Linked DNA regions of Homo sapiens: region 1 is linked to region 2. Evidence: fine-mapped expression QTL. A gene starts in region 2. The other region holds a variant in brackets. All regions are shown on one strand. Distances are between the middles of the regions.

What was found. PIP is the estimated chance that this variant, and not a neighbour inherited with it, causes the effect. A credible set is the group of variants that fine-mapping cannot tell apart.
Region 1: its variant is the best candidate, but not a certain one, in a credible set for the expression of TNFSF10 in CD4 T cells (BLUEPRINT, PIP 0.71).

Annotation. Positions count from the first base shown.
Region 1 is chr3:172,578,934-172,581,851 of GRCh38, forward strand. All of the region lies in intron 2 of LINC02068 (long intergenic non-protein coding RNA 2068), which reads right to left. Among named protein-coding and RNA genes, the nearest start is that of LINC02068, 15 kb to the right of the region's middle. The variant C/G (reference allele first, on the strand shown) is at 1,512.
Region 2 is chr3:172,522,422-172,525,272 of GRCh38, forward strand. It overlaps TNFSF10 (TNF superfamily member 10), which reads right to left and starts at 1,009. Exons shown (of 5, transcript NM_003810.4): 1 at 832-1,009. The coding sequence starts at 963. It also overlaps the pseudogene TBPL1P1. RefSeq lists an enhancer at 941-990.

The DNA of each region.
Region 1 (2,918 bases), 57 kb after region 2:
GATGACCTGAAATTGGAACTTACGTTTAAAAGGGAAGCAGAGCATAAAAGTTTGGAAAAATTGCAGCCTGACCATGCAGTAGAAAAGAAAAACCCATTTTCTGGGGAGAAATTCAAACTGGCTGCAAAAATTAGCATAAGTAATGAGGATCCCAATGTTAATCACAAAGACAATGGGGAAAATATCTCCAGAGCCTGTCAGAGATCTTGGCGGCAGCTCCTCCCATCACAGGCCTGGAGGCCTAGGAGGTTAAAAATGATTTATTGGGCCAGGCCCAGGCCCCCACTGCTGTGTGCAGCTTTGGGACTTGGTATGATGCATCCCAGCCACTTTAGCTCCAGCCATAGCTAAAAGGAGCCAATGTACAGCTCAGGCTGTGGCTTCAGAGGGTACAAGCCCCAGACCTTGGCAGCTTCCCTGTAGTGTTAGGCCTGTGGGTACATGGTAGTCAAGAATTGAGGTTTGGGAATGTCTGCCTAGATTTCAAAGGAGGTATAAAAATGCCTGGATGGCCAGGCAGAGGTCTGCTACAGGGGCAGAGCCCTCATGGAAAACCTCTGCTAGGGCAGTGTGGAAGGGAAATATGGGGTAGGAGCCCCCACACAGAGTCCCCACTGGGGCACTGCCTAGGGGAGCTGTGAGAAGAGGGTCACTGTTCTCCAGACCCAAGAATGGTAGATTCACCTCCTTCTTGCACCGTGCACCTAAAAAAGCCATAGGCACTCAATGCCAGCCTGTGAAGAAGCTACTCAAGGCCATGGGAGCCCACTCTTTGCATCAGTGTGTCCTGGGTGTGAGACATGGAGTCAAAAAAGATCATTTTGGAGCTTTAAGATTTAAGGACTGCCTTGCTGGATTTCAGACTTGCATGGGGCCTGTCGCCCCTTTGTTTTGGTTAATTTCTCCCATTTGGAATGGGAGCATTTACCCAAGGCCTGTCCTCCCATTGTATTTAGGAAGTAACTAACTTGCTTTCAATTTTACAGGCTTATAGGTGGAAGAGACTTGCCTTGTCTCAGATGAGACTTTGGACTGTGGACTTTTGAGTTAATGCTGAAATGAGTTAAGACTTTGAGGGACTGTTGGGAAGGCATGATCGGTTTTGAAATGTGAAAAGACATGAGATTTGGGAGGGGCCAGAGGTGGAATGATATGGTTTGGCTCTGTGTCCCCACCAAATCTCATCTCAAACTGTAATCCCCACACCTCGAGGGAAGCACCTGTAATCATCACATGTCAAGGGAGGGAGGTGATTGGATCATGGGGGCAGTTTCTCCCATGCTGTTCTCATGATAGTGAGTTCTCGCAAGATCTGATGGTTTTATAAGTGTTTGGAAGTTTTTCCTTCACTCTTCTCTCTCTTGCCACCATGTGAAGAAGGTCCTCGCTTCCCCTTTGTCTTCTACCATGATTATAAGTTTCCTGAGGCCTCCCCACCCATGTGGAATTGTGTGTCAATTAAACCTCTTTCCTTCATAAATCATCCAGTCTCAGGTATTTCTTCATAACAG[C/G]GTAAGAACAAACTAATACACAACCTAAGCCTTCCTCTGGAAATTGTGAACCTTAGATTACTCCAGAGTTCCAAGATAGTTAAGTCATATTCTGCCACTGCATTAGTTGGGTAGGTCAGGAGAGAGATTCCTGGTTCTTCCTACTCTGCCATTTTCCCAGAATCTGCTTATTGTCTCTCTTATTCTGTTGGGCCTGCTGTAACAAAATACTATAAACTGTGTAGCTAACAAATAACAGAAATTCACAAATTTGTATTATTGCAAATAAGTGAAAATTACCTTGCAACCACATACCATACTTATCTGAAGAACTTAAAAACTCTCTCAAGTATAGAAATGCAATACATTACAACAATCTTCTTCCACTTTGAGTTACTTCTCATAATGAAACCACAGAGAAACAAAAGTGGCGCCTTAAAAGAAACTGTGAAAAGAAACTTTAAGCTTCTGTTTGTTCCTGGAATAGATTTGAATCAAATTTAGGAAGGAAGCTCTTCCTCTTGAAAATTAACTGCATGAAAACAAATCAGAAGAAACAAAAGTCAGTTATATAATGTTGGCAGACAAGGAATTTAACCATGGAGAGGACAGTCATGTAGTTCATTTTATGTTATACTAAAATGATACTTTTTTCCAAAGTAGGGTAAAGATTTTCAAAGTTACATTCAATTTGTGACATATTGACTTCCTTTCAAAAATTGCCTTATGAATTACCATATGAAATTTTTCCAGAATCTTTGAGGGACTTAACCTAAGATTTTCCCCTCAGTATACAACAGTGACTAGATTTTTTCTGCCTGTACAGCACTTCAACTACATGGAACAGGTTAAGTCTTGTTTGATAATTCGATTCGTAAAGGTACAAAATGATCATGAACATGCCTGATCACCATATCTGAAACTCACCCTAATCCTGTAAAATGAATACTACTTTCCTTCCTATTTCAGCCTCATCCCAAGCAAAAGAAAAAAAATTTTGAGGCACTACTTATTTTTTATTATGCATAAAAATTTACACATAATTATACATGTGACAAATGTAAAACAGCATGCATTCACCAATATAATATCGGAATAATTTCACTTCCCTAAATATCCTCCATGTTCTGCCTATTTATCCGTCCCTCCCCTCTAGCCCCTGGCATGTATTATAATAAATGTTTGCTTACTACCAGATCATCTCAGGGAGCACCAGTGACATGCAAATATAATTTTGGAAACAATGGACTAAAGTTGTTTAAGCCATGCACAAGTGGCTGCAGTTTATCAATCGAGGTAGCAGCTTGAATTTTTCTGAGAAAGAAGATTATTGTTTCTAAGTATAGCTTAAGTGGCAGAATGTGAGTCTAGAGATGCTGATACCCATATGTTACCACATGGAGAGAGGTCTCATAAGAATGAGGTCAA
Region 2 (2,851 bases):
GTTTGAAAGCAGGAAAGAAATTTTATCATTCACCACTTAATTGGTTAGAATCTCTTACTGTGCACCTTTTAAAACCTGCTGCACATTGGACTCAAAAGGAAAACTGAACCAACGGTAATTGAGGAAATAGACTCTTTTATTTATTCATGGCTACAGTGTAAGCTCCAGTCCCTTTGGATTTTATTCCAAACCTTGTTATAATATAAAAAAGGAAGTTTACAAGACATGTCATTGCTGCTTTTACAAAAGGACATTCTATTTATTTTCGCAGGAATTCTCATGTCCCCATAAGCAGAGCTGTCACAGTGTGCACTACCTTAGGTTGTTTTATTGTTGTCATTGTTATTTTTTTCCATTTTGAGCTAATGTGTTTTATCTGTGAATAGTCTTTTACATTTTTGTATGCTGAAAATGGGCACCAAAGAACCTGTAAAAATTATCTTTTTCAATTGAATGTGCACAAATAAAAGTTTGGAAAAGGAAAACAAAAGAACTACAAAGCATTTAGCAGAAAGCTTTCATGAAGAGTTGCAATGGCTGATATTATAAAATACACATACTTTTAAAAACAAAAAATCCCTCAGGAGTTTTGTTGCCCACATCTGCTAGTAACTAGTGAAGCCAGTTGTGTAACTGCACTTAGTTTACACAATTTCTTGAACTTACAGTTTTGCAAAGACCTCAGTTGTTATGTGATTTAGCAGTTAGAGTGTACCCACAGAGAAAGGAAGCAGGAAAGTCTTCAGAGAGGGGCAAGCTGACATGCAAAGAAGCAGGTAACCAGACATTTGCTAAGCGCCTCGAAGACTGAGTGCACTGCACTGCACTGACCTGCTTCAGCTCGTTGGTAAAGTACACGTAAGTTACAGCCACACAGAGAGACTGCAGGAGCACTGTGAAGATCACGATCAGCACGCAGGTCTGTCCCAGGCTGGGTCCCCCCTGGACCTCCATCATAGCCATGATCCTGTCAGAGTCTGACTGCTGTAAGTCAGCCAGGCAGCCGGTCACTGAAGCCCTTCCTTCTCTATTCTTTTATAGTCAGTGAGGAAATGAAAGCGAATGAGTTGTTTTTCTGGGTTCTGTGGCCTTGGCCCCACCCACATCTATTGAACCTGCAACTGTCCCTCCCCTTTCCTACTGCCCAGGGACAGCTCTTGTCTCAAAGTAGTCGTTGGAAAGGAGGGAAACTGAAAGAAGCTCCTCTCCTTGCCCTCAGGATCCATGCACCCCTTATCTGCACTCACCTCAAGCCCATTTCTCTCTTCTCTTTCTTGCTCTCCTTTTGATAATGTCCTCAGCCAAAGAGGGGAGGGATTTTCTTTGCTTTTCCCTAACATATCCTCATTCTACCACAGAGCTCTAAGCCTCATGGCCTGGCTGTCATAGGCACAAGGCCTGTTTTCTAAATTATAAGATAATTTTTATGACCTGAAACTTCCATATGTGGTTTTTCTCATGCTACTGTGAGGGTGGGAAGAGGGCAGGGTGGGAGTGGATAAAGGAAAATAGAAATACTGTCTCATAGCAATGGTCTTGCTACATAATTCCATCTTGAATGTCAGAATCTAAATATTGACGACTTCTTCCTCTTTGCAAACCTTCAGACACAAATTCTAATCTCCTTCTCAGATCTCCATCCCTACCAAGACAACATGCCTGTGTGTTAGGCTGGACAGGTAGGAAGTAGTTGACACACTCAGAAAGGCAAAGGAAAAAAACATGTGGATGTTTTCCAAAATATTAACCCCATCACAATGTCTCGCTGTCACTATCCTTTTACAGATTAGGAAAAGAAGTTACAGGGAGTTAATTACCCTCAGATTCAGGACCCAGCCCCAAATCTCCCCACTATCAGATGTCATAAGCTGGCCCAGCTGTATGTTGTCTCTATATCTTATTCAGCATTTCTTTCTTTCCTTTTCTTCCTTTCTTTCTTTCTTTCTTTTCTTTTCTATTCTTTCCTTCTTTCCTTCTTTCTTTCTTTCTTTCTTTCTTTCTTTCTTTCTTTCTTTCTTTCTTTCTTTCTCTCTTTCATGTATTTATTTATTTTTTTGACAGAATCTCACTTTATCGCCCAGGCTGGAGTGCAGTGGTGCAATGGCACAATCTCGGCCCACTACAACCTCCACCTCCCAGATTCAAGCAATTCTCCTGCCTCAGCCTCCCAAGTAGCTGGGATTACAGGTGCATGCCACCATGCCCAGCTAATTTTTTTGTATTTTTAGTAGAGATGGGGTTTTACCATGTAGGCCAGGCTGGTCTCGAACTCCTGACCTCAAGTGATCCTCTTGCTTCAACCTCCCAACGTGCTGGGATTACAGGCATGAACCACTGCATGGGGCCATTGTTTAGTTATTCCATTCTTGACCCACTGAGTCAGAGTTTCTGGCAGTGGACTTAGGAACCTACATTTTTCAGCAAGTACTCCAAGAGATCCTTTGAAACCTAAAGTTTGGGACCCTAGATCTACAGTTACATTCCTGAGTTCATTCAGGCACCGCTGGTCACCATCACTTCCTGCCCTTGCCTTCTATCTGTAAATGAGTCTATATTTAAGAAAATATTTTCAAATTTTAAATTTGCCTCTGTCAAATTGCCAAATTTTTAAATGCAAATTCCTTTCAGACACAGACAAATTGGCAAGGTAGCATTTTTCCTACTAAAAGTTTTAGACATTATGTGAACCTAACACTATTTGAACACACTTACACTCTAAGTCCTAGACTGAATGAGTTTTTTAAATCAGGTGAAAGATGAGTAGGATAACCGTAATGCACAAGACACACAGCCGGGCAGGGCAGAAACAAGAAACGAGAGATGGCAGAGAAACACAGGGGAGAAGACCAAA